Linked DNA regions of Homo sapiens: all the other regions are linked to region 1. The links come from fine-mapping of genetic effects on plasma protein levels. A gene starts in region 1. Each other region holds a variant in brackets. All regions are shown on one strand. Distances are between the middles of the regions. Region 1 holds the start of PLA2R1 (phospholipase A2 receptor 1). Region 2 overlaps PLA2R1 (phospholipase A2 receptor 1). Region 3 overlaps PLA2R1 (phospholipase A2 receptor 1).

Region 1 (2,764 bases):
AGGATCAGATGTGCATCCACAGGAGCAATTTTCTGAATTGACCAAGAAGGTAAGAGCATCTCTGACTTTGGTCACTTTAGAATAAGAATGGTCTTGTTCTACCTGCCCCTGATTAAGCCTCCAGGGAGCTTAGGAAACACAGTCTAGAAAAGACTACCTCAAAAATGTAGACATATTCTACTGTGGAGGAAAAAATGTGAACGCAGATATTGATCACATCTTGTGTTACCCCTTCTCTCCAAACTTATCTCCAAAGGCAGAGAGGATGGAGGCTGTCTGGAGGCTCCTCCTGGCATATTTAACTCCCTCCTGTCCCCCTCCTACTTGCATATATGGACTTCTGCACTTAGGCGCAGGCTTCTCTGCCTGAGGTGGCCCATTCTCAAATGCGGGCCCCTGCAGGCCAGAAATCTCTCCTCCCTCTCTTTACACAACCTTCTGAGTCTCATGTGTAGTAGGTGCTCAATAAGTGTTTGCTGAATTGAACCCCGTTTTTCCACTGAGAGAGACTAAGGCATAAAGGCTTCAGATCACGCAGTTCATGGAGCCACTGGGGCTTCTCTCCCTCACCTGGCCTGATGTTTTCAGGCGGGGTGCGGTGGGTCAGGCCTGTAATCCCAGAACTTTGGGAGGACGAGGTGGGCGGATCACTTGGGCCCAGGAGTTGGAGACCAGCCTGGGCAACATGGTGAAACTCCGTCTCCACCAAAAATACAAAAATTTTGCTGGGCGTGCGGGCGCACACCTGTGGTCCCAGCTACTCGGGAGGCTGAGGTGGGAGGATCGCTTGACCCCGGGAGGCGGAGGCTGCAGTGAGCCGAGATCCCGCCATTACACTACAGCCTGGGCGACAGAGCAAGACCCTGTCTCAAAAAACAAACAAACAAAAAAAGTTTTCCTTAAGGAAGGGATGGACTGGGGAGGCCTGGCTTGGGGGTCACTCCTAGGTGGCGACGCAGACCCTGAGCGCTTGCTTTGCAAGGGGACGAACTGAGCCATCTTTTTGCTATCATTTATCCGTCCCAAATAAGCAGCTCTCAGAAAGTTTCCGTTTTGAAACTTCTCCGACACTCCTATCCCGGGCTGGCTCCGGGCGCCAGAGCCGAGAGGAGTTACCTGCGAGACCAAGCCCCCCCGCCCCCGCCGCCCGACCCCCGCAGGAGCCAGGAGGGTGCCGGGCCGCGCAAGTGGGGTGCTGGGCCTAGACAAGAGGCTGCAGGACACCACCCGCTCCCCCCATGCTCAGGACTGCTGACACACGAACCCCTACAAACGCGGCCGCCCTTGCCCGCCAGCTTGGCCCCTAGCTTCGCCCCTTCTTCCTCTCCTTCGACCACCCCGACCCCCCTCCCCAACGTACCGATCCAGTCCCCGACCCTGGGAGACTCACCCTGCCACTCCAGGAGCCGCTCGGGGGTAAGCGCCGCCGCCACACCCTCGGCGCAGCCCCGCGGCGCCCCCAGCAGCAGCAGCAGCAGCAGCGACGGCGACAGCAGCATCGCTAACCACTGGGCTCTCCGGGAGCCCCTTGTCCCGGGAGCCCCTTATCCCGGGAGCCCAGAGCCGCGTCCCAAGCACCCGGCCCCGCCGCGCGGAAGCGGATCCGTAGCCTCCTCCGCGCCCCACCCCCTCCGGGGGCCTTGCCAGCCCAGAGCCCTGGAGACCCACTCCGCCACCGCTGTCTCCACAGTGAACCGACACTCGGGGCTCTGGGCTGGGATGCGGGAAAGTCGCGGAGGTTTTCCTCGCCCCACCCACTGCGGCTTGGGGAAGGAGGAGGAGGAGGGGTGGGCCATCTGCCCATCCCAGAAATTCCTGCCTTTGGGGTGGGGACAGGCGGAGTGAGGCTGCTCGGGTCACACTCTCCGCTCCTCTAGCTTGCAGCCCTGCTCTCTCCTTTCTGGGGGAGGCCGAAGAGGAGTTGTGGGTGAGCGATTTGAGAATCTCCGGGACAAGGAGCCTGACATCCGGGTTTGCAAACCACCTGGATTCTGGTAAACACCGCGGATTTGCAGCGGGCAGCCTAGAGTGAACCCAGCTGCTCCGCGACGCAGGCGCTTTGGGAGGGTCCTGGACTCCTTTGACTTGTGGAGCACTGGAGACACCTGAGGGGCCACGCCGTGGTCTCCACCTTCCTTGCCCCAGAGTAACCCGGAGATTCTTCTATTCAGCTCCTTCGGTTTTGAAATAACCTCCTCTTTCCAACTCCTTTGATCCCCCAAGCCCCGCAAAGTAGCCGGGGTCCCTATTATCCCATTTTTACAGCTGAGAAACCCTGCCCAGAAAGTCGAAGTGCTTTGCTCTAGGTTACTTCCTAATCCAGCAAAAGTTACTCTCTAGCAAGTAGGACAGCCCTGGCTAGAATGTAGTCGTTCTAACTGTCCTCCTTCAAATAACCAGCAGAACACTGGAAGCGTTTAATATTCTGAGAACAGGCTCATATAAGACCTTTCCTCAGCGGGACCTTGACATTAGTCATTAAAACATAAGAGAGGGGGAGGGGAGGGGCAGAAAGCAGAGCCTGGAAGGAAATGCCTAGCAGGGAGCAAGATTGAAGGTCAGAGCCAAATGGGGAAGAAGGGAAAGTGGTTGCCTTGGCCATGGCCTTAACAAAAGGTGCTCAGTCCTGCAGGAACCTCAGAGAGCCTCAGAACTGTCTGTCGAGGACAAAAGGGGCAAGCGTTTATCCATGGACTTTATCCTTCCCTGTTGGTAAGGGAGATCCTAGGGTTATTAACTCCTCTGCACTGTTCTACAGCAGTGG
Region 2 (2,764 bases), 81 kb before region 1:
ACAATGGCCTCAGAACAATATGGCTAGCAAAGATTTCTCAGGACCTTGCCAAATAATTCTCCTGGTACTAAGGTCTGGTGCAGTTTTGTCATGGGAGCTCTGGCCATCATTTCTAGGTTCTCTTGGTTGGTTTACCAAGTGGTCCCAGGCCCACTTGTTTTGAATCCATCCCTTTTCTCCAGTTTGAAAAGACTTACAGGAGTTCTATCAGACCACTCCCATGAGCCGGCATTCAGTGGGTTTCTTTTATTAAATCCAATCCAGAACTGCCTTTCTTCTGTCCTGTAAAGAGAAGAAACAAAAGCTTTGCCTTTCCCATCAAATTTACAGCATTATGTGAAAGGTTCAAAAAATACCAGCATGGCACATGTATACACATGTAACTAACCTGCATATTGTGCACATGTACCCTAAAACTTAAAGTATAATAATAATAAAAGAAAAAATATTTTAAAATATTTATGTATGCAGGAAACAGCTGATGCTACTGGCAGGATTGATCAAGTCAACAAGCATTGAACATTTTAAATGTGCAAAACCCTGTGCTGTGACATGAACTGAGAGAAGAATAAGCCTCACATTCTATTACTCTTGGTTTGTGTGGTTTGCTCACAGGTGATATACAGGTGGGTAAAAGTCAGCTTTTATTGAGAACATGAGTTTCTCATCAGGAATAGCAAAGCCTTTCAGTCAGGACAAGAACACATGAAAAGAAAATTGGTAAGAAACTTTGGAACATCTCTAGCCAAGAGGACCTTTCACTACTTTACTGTGTGTTTGCTACTTCACTATACTATTTATTCTACTTTACTATGCTTTGATTTGTTGTTCTTTTGTTAAACATTCATGTATTCTCTGAAAGTCAACCACCATCATCTTCACTGAATAAAAGGTACACAGTAGGTTTTGGGTTTTTTTCAGATATCAACACAAATAATTCTAAAGCCAGTCACCCTGAGCCATGGTTCATTAACTTCAGTTGTCACCATTGGTTTATACTTGGTGAGAAGCTCCACAGAGAATCACCTTCCCTTCTATGAGGCAGAGTACAAATGTGTCCACAGAATACTCAATAAATCGAGTAATAAAGCCTACCTGTGCAATGAACCATCTCACTAAGATAATTTTCTGAGAATAATTTTGAAGAATCAAAGATTTAAAATATTCAGATGTCAGGACAGATACTTTATTTTCCTTTGTGCAGAGAAGCAAGGAATTCCTTCTCGGATATGTCAGCTACTCTGCCTGGATGACACAAATTAAATTCAAATTCAGCTTAGAAATCCAAGAGATCACTGATGCCCGGTTGGACATTGTCATGATGATACTAACTTTCATTTAAGGCTGGGAGAAGGTGAGAATGGCCACCTTCAGTTTAAGCCAAGCACATTAATCTCGATGGCATAGGCTGAAAATCCATGTCACTCTCCTGGTGTTGTGACCTTTTTCTTTCCTCACTGAATTCAGAGTTCTATGTCTTTCCTGCTATATACTGGCTCCTGGAAGATGAAATGGTATTTACTTTCTCTTCATCAGTTTCCTGAAATTGTACAATATTTAATAAACACACATGTATGTGCATA[CGTGT/C]GTGTGTGTGTGTGTGTGTGTGTGTCTGATTAATAAAATAGAAATAGAAAAGCAGTGCCATAGGAAGGAAAAGCAGCATACCTGTTATACCTGCTAACTATGAGATCTGGTATGTTTGCTATAATTAAGCATCAGATTTGACTGAATTCTCTGGTAGTCTGGGAATAAACTGAAACATACACAGTTATTGATAATTTTTTTTTTGAGACAGGGTCACACTGTCGCCCAGGTTGGAGTATAGTAGCACACAATCTTGGCTCACTGCAACCTCCTCTTCCCAGGCTCAATTGATACTCCCACCTCAGTCTCCTGAGTAGCTGGGACTACAGATGTGTGCCACTACACCTGGCTAATTTTTTTGTACTTTTTGGTAGAGATGGGGTTTCACCATGTTGCCCAGGCTGTTCTCTAACTCCTGGGCTCAAGCAATCTGCCTTGGCCTCTCAAAGTGCTGGGATTACAGGTGTGGGTCACTGCACCCAGTCAAGAATTTTTAAATATTTTATTTAAAGACGGTTCTCGCTCTGTTGCCCAGGCTGGAGTGCAGTGGCACAATCATACCTCACTGTAACTTTGAACTAGGTTTTGCTGGGACTACAGGTGTGGCCACCACACCCAGCTAATTTTGAAAAATTTTTTTGTAGAAACTGAGTCTCACTATGCTGCCTAGGCTGATCTTGAATTCCTGGCCTTAAGTGTTCCTCCCACCTTGGTGTCCCAAAGTGCTGTGACCCACTGTGCCTGGCTCATATTATATGACTTTTGTGATCAGATATTGAAGATCCATGATTTAGCTTGGGACTAAATTCTGCTAGACATTTCAAGCATGAGAACTTACATAAACAGAAATGACAGTGACATTTGATCTTAAAGCAAACTGGGAAGCAGTGTGTGTGTGGTTGTCATATGGCAAACCTCACTAAAATGCAAGGACAGAATATGCAAATATGTTTTAAAGGAAGCTAAAGTAATGAAGCAAAATGTAACTTTGAACAATGGAGACTATCACCTATCCCTTGGATTTGCGGCCTCACACCTGGCTGATAATCCAATTAGCCAGAAAGCTTCTTAAACTTTTCTTCAGACTCAGAGAGTCTGACTCAGCAGCTCTGGTGTGAGGCCAGAAAGCTCTGTATTAAAAGGTGTCCCGACCAAGTGTGATGAGCAGCCAGGTTCC
Region 3 (2,764 bases), 33 kb before region 1:
TAGATATTATTTAAGTATTAACTCCATCTAAAAGTTCTGCATGTAATTTCAGGGAGGAAGGTGTGTTACTAATAAGAGATTCAGAGTGTGGCAGAAAATCAATGAAGTAAATAATTATATAAAATTGTTTTCTAAATTATGTTTAATTTCTAGGGGAACAATAAACTCAAAACTAGAATAGAAAAAGAAATGTATCTTATTTCTCTAATACAGAATGACTAACAGTGCAAATTTTTTAAAAGAGAAGAAAATGTTTGCTATGCTCAGATTATTTCAGTTTTTAGTATAAACCTAAATGCATTTGTTAAAATCACAGTCCCTTTGACATAACAGATATTGTCTAGTTACACATCTTTTCATATAAATATAAACTAGATTTAGCTAAGTTTACATTATGAATTATTAGCAAAAAATAGAGAAATTTACATATATTGAGAGGACAAGTCAACAACACCTAAGAACAACTTAAAATAAAAACGCTTACCAACTATTTCATGATCAATGTGGTTTAGATATTTTTTACATATATATGGCAAGGTGGACTCACAATCCCGACTCCTCCAGGCACTTGGCATAAATGAACTAAATGTTCCACAGTGATCTTCAACAAATGGCTCAAAATTTACCTCTGAAAATACAATGAGTGTCTTTAATATTAGAAGCAAAAGCAGTTAGTTTAATATATATTGAAATGTGGTTTTCAGCATCGGGGGACAGCGTTTCTATTTGTCATATATAGTAAATCCTATAAGATGTTATCTATGATTTTGCAGTTACAGTCCAGGCATGTCAATTAAATGATTTCCCAAAGATTCCAAAAGACCCACTTTTATTATCTTAAAGTAGAGAGATATTTTGCAATTTGTAGCTATTTTTAAAACAGCAGACTGGAATCTTGGCTTACACCCAAATCCTCCTGCAACTTTGGCTAAAAAGCTTATCTTCCTGGTCCCTATTTTCTTGTTTGGAAAAGCTTGCCTTAAAGGAATTCAGTCAGGCTAAAAAATGTTTATACACTACTCTCAAAAAAGCATGTCCTATGTGCATGGGAAATGCTGCTGTGTAAGGGTGCAAGATGATGCCACGTGACGAAGGCAAAGAAAACACTGCGGGTACCTGGGCTCCAATTCAGATAGTTGAGCGGCGTTCCATCAGACCACTGCCAGCCAGCGTGTTCATCCAGCTGATTGAGGCCCA[T/C]CCACACCTCCACTGTTTTACTGCTCATGTGCTCTGAAATGAAAATTATGGAGCTTCAAAAAAAAAATCCAGTGTTACACATCTTTCTTGTTCTCCTATTCCTGGATCATGGAGTCAGAAACTAATTCCAGTCAATGACGGGAAAGGTGCACAGAATGCACGTGGTGCTTCTGAGTGATAAAGCAGGCTCCCACCATCTTGAGAAACAGAGCAGGCTCACTGACAGCTGTTTTTCAACTGTGAATGCTTCATGCAAGTACCCAGAAAGGTTGCCTTTCAGGGTTGTCAATCTAGACAAGGGTGCATGGTTGCATACTTGAGGCCATCTTACTTGAGTGAGCTCATGAACTTAAAGGTTTAATAGGGTGGAGGAAGAGGTGTGCAGGGTCAGTCCCAGAAAGTGAACAGAGGCACATCTTCAAAGGTAAAACGGTGTGCTGAAGTAGATCAGGGAGGGGTGTACAGTGTGACAGCCACCAGGAGATGTCTGCTCAACAGGAGGGACCAGAGTGTCTCGGGGGATCCCTAGCAGGTTGGGACCTAAGGCTGTGTGCAGTGCAAACTGGAGGCTGCTTCCACAGCTTGAGGTGGGAGAAGTTTAATGGCAGGCTGGCTCTGTGGCCCCTCCTCTTAACCAGTCCACTACAACTTGCAGTTTAATGCAATACCATTTTTGTTATAGATACTATGAATAAAAACATGCATTGACATGCAGAAAGACATAGTTATCAAAATTAAAGAATTATGGGAATTTTTCCTCAGTTTTTCTTTTTGTGCACCTAAATTTTAAACATTATTCCAGAATAAATAGGTACTACTTATGCAGCAAAATTTCGGGGGGAAAAAAACCAAAACCTAGTGTCAGAAACATAATGAAAGTGGCAATTTTGTGATGCTTTGAAATGTTGCCATTTACTCGTTTAATCTATAAAGGAGAGCATTGTTCGCTTACAATTCACCTGATTCAGAGCCCAATTTATTTTTAGTCAGACGCAGGGGTCCTGCCTAAGATTAAGACCCTGACGGATAAGGGTTATAAACAGGGTGACCGTATGCCCCCATTTTCCTGGAAAACTCATGGTTCATGCTGGTATTTCCAGAATAATTATTAATCACAGTCCCTTTTACTATCAAAAGAATCTCAGTTTGGATGATAGACTGTATGATTACCCAGGTTGTGAAGGTCATTGTAGTCATATAACAAGGCTGCAGCATCCTCAGTGACTAGATATTTCAATACAATTGTGAAAAACTCAAAGAAACTAACCCATTTAAGAAAAGAGAAAAAGGTGCTTTATAATTTTGAGACTCCCAGAAATCAATAAACAGAAACAGCATACTATACACGGGTTTCACCCTTCCAAGTTTCTGTGGCATTCATATGGAATCTCTTTCTAATGTCTATTTGATTATTCCTTTCAATAGCACCATTCGATTGAATCGTTTAGCAGGTCTTATGATGATAAGAAGTGAAATGGATTGACAGGGCAGGGAGAAATTTTCACGTTTCACATCCAGGCAAGTGCCAAGTGATATTTTAAAATCTAGTTAAAATATTAAAACGTTA

What was found. A credible set is the group of variants that fine-mapping cannot tell apart. PIP is the chance, under the fine-mapping model, that this variant and not a neighbour inherited with it causes the effect. Protein levels are from the aptamer-based SomaScan assay of Sun 2018.
Region 2: its variant is the best candidate, but not a certain one, in a credible set for the plasma level of the PLA2R1 protein (Sun 2018, PIP 0.51).
Region 3: its variant is the best candidate, but not a certain one, in a credible set for the plasma level of the PLA2R1 protein (Sun 2018, PIP 0.71). The variant lies in the coding sequence of PLA2R1. If it changes the protein, the assay may bind it differently, which can mimic a change of level.

Annotation. Positions count from the first base shown.
Region 1 is chr2:160,060,905-160,063,668 of GRCh38, forward strand. It overlaps PLA2R1 (phospholipase A2 receptor 1), which reads right to left and starts at 1,711. Exons shown (of 30, transcript NM_007366.5): 1 at 1,391-1,711. The coding sequence starts at 1,499.
Region 2 is chr2:159,979,633-159,982,396 of GRCh38, forward strand. PLA2R1 (phospholipase A2 receptor 1) reads right to left here. Exons shown (of 30, transcript NM_007366.5): 14 at 198-282. Among named protein-coding and RNA genes, the nearest start is that of LY75-CD302, 76 kb to the left of the region's middle. The variant CGTGT/C (reference allele first, on the strand shown) is at 1,584.
Region 3 is chr2:160,027,734-160,030,497 of GRCh38, forward strand. PLA2R1 (phospholipase A2 receptor 1) reads right to left here. Exons shown (of 30, transcript NM_007366.5): 5 at 1,117-1,230; 6 at 485-628. Among named protein-coding and RNA genes, the nearest start is that of PLA2R1, 33 kb to the right of the region's middle. The variant T/C (reference allele first, on the strand shown) is at 1,198.